2 linked regions of the Homo sapiens genome follow. The protein of the gene in region 1 purifies or fractionates together with the protein of each later gene. This does not show direct contact. Each region holds a gene or a part of one and is shown on either strand. Other genes may lie near its edges.

Evidence for each region.
Region 2: the proteins of IFFO2 (region 1) and P4HA2 purify together in Homo sapiens (co-immunoprecipitation; one large-scale study listed by IntAct). This does not show direct contact.

What each region holds. Positions count from the first base shown.
Region 1 is NC_000001.11:18,949,948-18,953,758, reverse strand, and holds part of IFFO2 (intermediate filament family orphan 2), read left to right. Parts: intron 1-3,811.
Region 2 is NC_000005.10:132,193,098-132,196,908, forward strand, and holds part of P4HA2 (prolyl 4-hydroxylase subunit alpha-2 isoform 2 precursor), read right to left. Parts: intron 2,384-3,811; coding exon 2,315-2,383; intron 1,926-2,314; coding exon 1,829-1,925; intron 1-1,828. UniProt on the Homo sapiens protein: Catalyzes the post-translational formation of 4-hydroxyproline in -Xaa-Pro-Gly- sequences in collagens and other proteins.

The sequences.
Region 1 (3,811 bases):
GGAATGAGACGGTGCTGCTGAGACAGGTGGAGTGCGGGCGTCTCTCTTCCCGCCCTTCTGGGATGCGTGCACACCTTGTCTTCCATTTATTTTCTGAAGTTAACTCAAGACTCATGTTGGATTTTTCCAAAGCAGGTATATTCCTTTCCTGGGGCCTCAGTTTCCCCGTCTGTGAAGTGAGGTTGAGGGGGGGCTAGAATTGCGGTCCTTGAAACCCCAGGCTTTCTTAGAGATGCTTTAGGGTTTCCTTGAATATCTAATAAAAATGATCATTTAAAAGAACATTAAGACGTTAATACAGTGATAAAAATGTGCTCACCCACCTTTAAGTTCTTAATATTAACTCACTGGGTTCTACTAACATGCTAACTTGTTAGTAGTATGTTTTGGGTATCCCTAAGAATTTTCTTTGGGGAGGAGGGCAGACATTTGATAAACATTTTTTAAAAAGTTGAAAAACCACTGGGCTAGATGATCTCAAAGGGTCTTCCCAGCCTTGGCAATATATAAATCTGAGTTTGAGCTCCCAGCCCGCTTCTGATCCCCTGGCCATAAGAGAAGTCACCGTCTAAGGGATGAGACCCAGGTGTCTGCCTGGACTGTTGTGGCCATGAAGGGCTTTAAATCATCCCAGGATATCTATTACAGAACTCCAAGCAATGATGCCCAGAAGGAGCCTAACCCAGAAGGGAAAGGTTCCAGGGTTTCCCCTGGTCCACCTGGAGGAAGCTGCAGCTCCAGAGACCCCCACTTGCTTCCCCAAAGGACAACTTAGGCTGCGAGGCTCAGCGATCTTCAAGCCGGACGCTTGTTGAGTTCCACCTCCATGATTTCTGGCCACATCCATGTACTACCGCCTGTGCTATTACGTACATAAAATATTTTAACAACTTCATTGAGGTACAACTTGCATATCACAAAAACTGCCCATTTTAAGTGTACAAGTCAAGATGAGTAAATTCACAGAGTTGTGCAGTCATTACCACAATCCCGTTTTAGGGCATTGCATCAGCCCCCAAAAAGATCCTTCATGTCCATTTACAGAAAATTCCAATTCCAAGCCCAGCCCAGGTAATCACTGACCTGCTCTGTCTCTAGAAACTAGCCTTTTCCGGACATTTCATAGAAATAGAAACATACACTCTGCAGTCTTTTGTGTTTGGCTTTTTTCACTTAGAGAATTTTTTTTGAAGTTCATCCATGTTGTAGCATGTATTTGTAGGCTGTTCCTTTTTATAGCTAAAAATATTCCTCTGTAGTATAGACCATATTGTGTTTATGAATCCACCCAGGTATTCAATGTATTTTAAATTTAAAACGTCAACTGTATACCACCGAGCATCATCTCATGTGCCATCAGTGGTCCACAAACTGTGCTTTGGAAACACCAACCCAAACCAGAGCCCCTGGCCTGGGGTGCCTGGGTCCTGGCCCCAGTCACCACTGCTTTGGTTTTCCCTTGGCCCAACCAGGTCTTTACCACGTGGGAAATGTGGTCGCTGAAGCCGCAATGAGGACGAGGTTGTCAAGCGTTGATTTGGAAACCAAAACAAACATCTCTACTCTGTCACCACCCAGGGCCACTAAAATATCTTGTTCTGACTTTGCAAGCTGGGGGCTTTTCCCTGGAGTTTCCCACTGAGTTTATCTGAACTCAACAGTGGAGAGTTCCCTGAGTTGGCATCCAGGAGACCTGGACTTTAGGTCCAGCTCTGCCACTAGGTGCTGTGTGACCTCTGGCCAACCGCTGCCCTCTCTGGGCCTCAGCTCCTCCACCTTTACATGCAGGAGTTCCTGTGGGTGATCTCTCTCAGCTTGCTCTCTACTTTAGGTCAGTGACTCCAAGAGGCCCGTGTTGTGGCTGATCTTTCTGCCTCTGGAGACCACACTGTGTTCGCTGAAGCCTTTCTCTGTTCTGGGCTTCCCCTTCCCTCTCCTATCTCTGCCCCAGATAACTAGGGTCCAGGCTCCAGGCATAGGCAGCGCTGGCCATCCCATCCCCAGGCTTAACCGGTTCAACCGTTTCCCCTGTCTTCATTGGCTCCAAGGAAGGATGCAGGAAATCTTTAAGGCTGTCAAGAAAAAGGTCCCTCCAGCCTGGCAGCTGTCACAAAGTTGCCATGGACTGGTAGGGGAAGTTGCCCTGGGCTGGTAGAGGAAGTTGCCCGGCGCTAGTAGTGCTGGCCTAGCTGCCTATCAGACAGGGCGACTCTTTTGGGGGCCTGGTGTCCCTGTCCAGAAGCCTGTCCAGCCATCCTGGCCCCCTCAGGCCTAGTGTGATTTGCAGCTGGCTGGCCTGGTTCCCTCCCGTGCGAGTGGCTGACTGTATGCGCCCCCCAGTTGAAGTCAGCCTGGAGGCTAGGTTTCTTTTTTTCCTGGTGCCTGGGGTGATTGGAGGGTGGTTTGGGAGCCTGGAGAGACCACTGTGATCATTCAGCCTGGTGGCTTTCAGGTGGGCTTTTTAGAGCCCTGGAGTCCATAGCAGGGCGCCTTGGGAGACTCGGGGGACAGTGGGAGGCTGAGTACCTGAGATTTGACCCATGTTGCCCACCATAGCTCCATGCCTCTCTGACTCCCAGACTGTCCAAAAAGTATTCCATTTTAAAAAGGGTTCTGCTGTTTTAAAAAGAAAGAAACCGCTGATTCAGCTGAGTACTTTCATTTTAAAGGTGGGGAAACCAAGGCCCAGAGGGGGGCTGGCCCTCAGTGCTGAGCTGGACAGACCTTCCATCTGCCGTGCAGAGCTGGCCTCCCCGCCTCGACATGATGCCCGCATCATCCGCCAGCAGTCGAGGCTTTGTTATGTTCTTTCCACCTTTTTGTATGTCTGTTTTAAACATTTTTTTAAAAAGCCACTTTCTGGGATGGGAGGGACTTTTGTCACAGCTATTTCTGACTGTGAGCCGGAAGGGGCTGGGCTGTCGGCTGGAATGGAGGACTCCAAAAAGGGATGGTGGGTGGGTCAGCTGGAGTGTCCCCCGCCCATTCCCGTCACACCCCAGGGGGGCCCTCAAGCAGGTGGGTGCTGGCCCCTGAATGTCCCGAAGCCCGAAGGCTGCCCTGGAATAGAAAGCTGAGGGCTTTGTTCCCTGCCACTCCCATTGACACTTTCGTTATTTCTGAAGCTGGCACCGATACGGATTCTTTATTTCTGATTTTCCAGTGAGGCAGCCTTCGATGGTGGAAAAGGGTTTTGCATCCTGGCTCTGCCACTGTCTGTGTGAACATGGGCAAGTGGCTTGGCCTCTCTGAGCTGCCCGTGGAGCTCCCCGCTTCGTCCTCTGTAAAAGAGGGATCATCTTGTTGCTCTCCCAGGGATTGAGAAGGAACAAATGAGGTCTGGTGTTAAGGTACCTGGGGCTTGGCAGATTTTGGGCATACCTACCTCCACCCCAGCCCAGCCCCCTTCCCCTGGCAAAGTCTGTTCCTTTAATTTACAAGGATTTCTCAGCATGGCCCTGACTGCCTAACAAGTCCATTTCAGGGCATGTCGCCGCTCTCTCTGTCCCATGGAGGCGCCAGAGATGGTGTTGGGGGTGGAGGGAGAACGGCTGCTTCTTTGTCCGGCATCTAAGAAGGCTGTTTGACCTACTCTTAGCAGTTGATTTGTGCCTCCGGAAATCTCTCGCCATCCCCCAGCCCTTTCTCCCAACTTCCTTTAAGAGAAACACACAAACCCCTCCATCTAGCGCCTCGGGTCCCTTGAGAACTATATTACAGAATCCCTTGGCTGGGTTGGCATTCTCACTGGGGACAAATTTGGGAGCGATTCTCAGAGCCTCAAGCTAGAGGGAGGGGAATGAGGTCCCAG
Region 2 (3,811 bases), on another chromosome or scaffold:
GCATGTTACAATCCTATTGGTCAGTTTAGTAGCCTGAATGAATGACTCCTTCATGATGACCCCCTGCACTGTGCCCTGGAATCAGACACAAATAAGACAAGACATGATCTCAGGCCTCAATTTGCTGAAGAATTGGTAAGGAAGACACATGTAAACAGATAATTGTATGAAATTCTGCCAGTGGGACAAGATACATGTGTGCAGGTTGCCATGGGAATAGCACCCAAGGGCATCTAATCATGCCCTTTCATGCCCATGACCTTTGATGCCCTTTGGCTCTATTCCCATGGCAACCTGCACACATGTTTCTTGCTCTTAGAGGGAAGAGGAAATCCTAGGGCTAGAATATAAAGCTACATAGAAGTTATCCTGGGAAGAAGATGGGCATACCCAGATGGTTCTCTCACCAAGAGGGTCCCAGGAGTGACAACAGGATGAGAAAGTAATCAAGGCAGAAGCCACCCTGACGTGTGTTGGGGACTCAAGAGGCCTAATATTACTGGGAGGTGGCAGGTAGAAACTGAGAGGTAGGGTGTGAGGATGAGGAAGACTGTCAGCATTGCAGAGGGCTTGGACATTAACCTCAGGAGCCGTGGACCAGCAGATCCAGTCTGTATGCCATGGGCACAAGAGCAACAGAGCTGCTGCCAGCACTATCACCCCACGCCATATCTTCAAACACACAGGAACCATGATTCTGTTCCTCACAGACTCTCTCATAATGAATAAAAATTTTATTTCAATGCACTACTGAAGTCACAGAGCTTTTAAAATATAAAGTAATAACATGTACTTCATTGAAAAAAATAAAATTGTCGCAAGGCTTATAATGATAAATAGCACTCCTCCTAAGCCTCTCCTTCCCATCCCTAATCTCCACTCCCAGGGAACATTAAACTCCTCTAGCTGTTTCTTCTGATATTTAACCTCATTTTTCTAGATAAGATGCTTATAGTTCTATTCCTTGACTTTCAACTTTGGAATTCTTTTATTCTACCCCTAAAACACAAACTCATCCCCTCCCACCTTTCCAGTACAGGTAAATCATAAGTTTTAGTTAAAGTAATACTCAGTGTGTACATAATTATATCATGTGTTACACCTGAGCCATCTAGTAGATTATACTTACATTTCCTTTCTTGTACAACTTTTTTTCCCCTGAATTCAGCAACTGCCTTGTTTTCTTTTCCATTTGCTTAATTATCTGCAAACCTATCACTATTTATCTTCAAAACTCTCCAAGGGGGCTACACACTCATCTCCTTACAAACACTTCCTGTCATATCCTGGTTTGAGCCTCTCCGAGGCTCACCACAACTGCTCCCAGGATAAGGCTCAAGCTTGAGCCTCTGCAGTTTGGTCCCAGCCTCCAGCCTCATCTTCTGGCCCCTGTGCCACAGGCCTCCCTTTCTTCAAGTGACAAGGGAGCCAGCCCCCACACCCGTATGCTGGTTTTAGCCTGTGCCTCCATCCATATGGGCCTTGTTTGCCTGAGACACTCTTTCCCCTCACTGCTTCCAGCTCTCCACTCTGCTCCCTCAGAAGCCTTGCCAGAGGGTCCTGGACCTATGGTGCTTATGCAGCTATTCGTCCTCAGGCCTTCTTCAGCTTCCTGTGTATCTCTGAGTGTTTCCAACCAGCTGCCTTGGCATTTACCAGCTGCATGGACATTACATGGCTGGATGGTAATAACAGCAGAAAAAAACCTAAGAAGGGAGACAGTCTCAGCAAATTTGGCAGCAGTTGCCTCCCAGCTCAGAATCTAAGGCCAATAAGCAAAGCCCAAGCTGAGGCCACCAACACCAACACTACCCCTTAAGACACTCACCCCACTTGCAGCCCACAAGCACAGGGCAGGCAGCATGTCTTGTTCGGTAGTCACCTTCCCCGCTCCGCAAGAGGTTGTACCAGAACACAGCTGTACCCTGGGAAAGAGATGGCCTTTCAGAACACATTCTTAAGAGACTGTGCTCAGGGACCTGACTGCAAGCATCACAGAAGCTCTGCCCTGAGCAGAAACACCCTCATTTTCCCATGGACAGGGGATAGGGCTCTGGGACTCCAGCAACAGAGACATTTCCCAGAAAGCACCTACCTTTCTGAGGTAGAAGTCTGGGAACTCACCCGCCCCTGAAGGGACTTCCCTCCCTGTCCTTTCTTCACAGGGAGAAGCTGGGCTACCAGGTCAGACCCCAGGTGGGCTAAGGCACATCACAGTGACAATCAGGCAGGCCAGGTAATGGTACTGGGGGACATGGACAAAGTAAAGTCTGAGCCTTGCTTCAACCTCTGACCCACAAGAATCAGAACTTACCTTCTTAGGCCAAATTGCAGCCCCCAGATCAGGGAAGACGGTGGCACCACCAGCTTCTACATCACTCATCTGGAAATATAAGACATAGAGCTTGACCCTCCTACCCAAGGCTCTCAGAGCAATTGAGCCACAAAGGACATGACAAGGTATATAGATTGCCCTCCTCTCAGCATGAGTGACACTACTTGGTGTCTGCTCCATGGCCAGCCCTTTAGCCAAGAAAGGCTCTTCCCATGCCTACTTAACCAGTGTGATTCATTAGAACAGTCTCCATGTCATGAGTGTTCAAGAGTTGAGGCCCACAGGAGACCCACATCCGGGCTGTCCCTGGATGAAAATAATCTGAGTCTGTACTCAGAAAATGCCTGTTCTGACCCCACCCTTTGAATCCCCATCTAGCCTTGGCCTTGCCTAAGCCACTGTACTCTGCAAAGTGCCCTGACCAGGAGCTCTGTACTGTTTCCAACACCATGTGCAGTCCCCACTGCAGCTCTGTTTCTCTGGCTCTAGTAGTTTGCTGCTCTAGTCAGACCTTCACCTTCCCAGAGTAGCCACCCTTCCTGGGGCCAACTGAGTGGAAGGGTGGGGCACTGTGTCTCTAGAGGCCCTGCTTTCTCCTATGGTAAGGCCTTAAACTACATTGAACACAAGTTCCACACTAGCAAGGCTGTACTCATGCCCACAGAGCATGCCTTGACTCATGGCCAAAGCACTACTTCTTTCCCATCTGGCTCTCTTACTTTTTTTGTCCATAATTTAATAAAAATTGGAGGTAAAAAATATTTCCACAGGACACATACCAGACTCACTGAAGGGTACTTGACAGACATATGGTAAATGAATAAGACAAAAGCTCTGATGGCTTCTCACAGCCCTGTGGATCAAACTCAGATTCTTTTCTAGAACCCCAAGGCCCTGTCAGTCTCACTAGCCTCTCTCCAGACACACCAGCCTTTTTCTACCTTTCCAACATCCCAAGTTCCTTTTCTCTTACAGGACTACATACACTCTCTCTTCTGCCAGAAACCATGTTCTACCAGCTAATTTCCACTCAACTTTTAAGTCTCAACTGATATGTTACTTCCAAAGAGAGGCCTCCACTGAACCCCAAGCCTGGGGTTCACAGCACCTGTCTCCATAACTACATAATAATCTCTCTGATGTTTAGGCTGGGCATGGTGGCTCACGCCTGTAATGCCAGCACTTTGGGAGGCCAAGGCGGGTGGATCACTTGAGGTCAGGAGCTTGAGACCAGTCTGGCCAAGATGGTGAAACCTCATCTCTACTAAAAATACAAAAATTAGCTGGGCATGGTGGTGCACGCCTATAATCCCAGCTACTTGGGAGGCTGAGGCAGGAGAATCGCTTGAACCTGGGAGGCAGAGTTTGCAGTAAGCTGAGATAGCGCCACTGCACTCCAGCCTGGGCAACAGAGGGAGAGTCTGTCTCAAAAAAAAAAAAAAAAAAAGATAAAGAAGAATCTCTCTGATGTTTAAA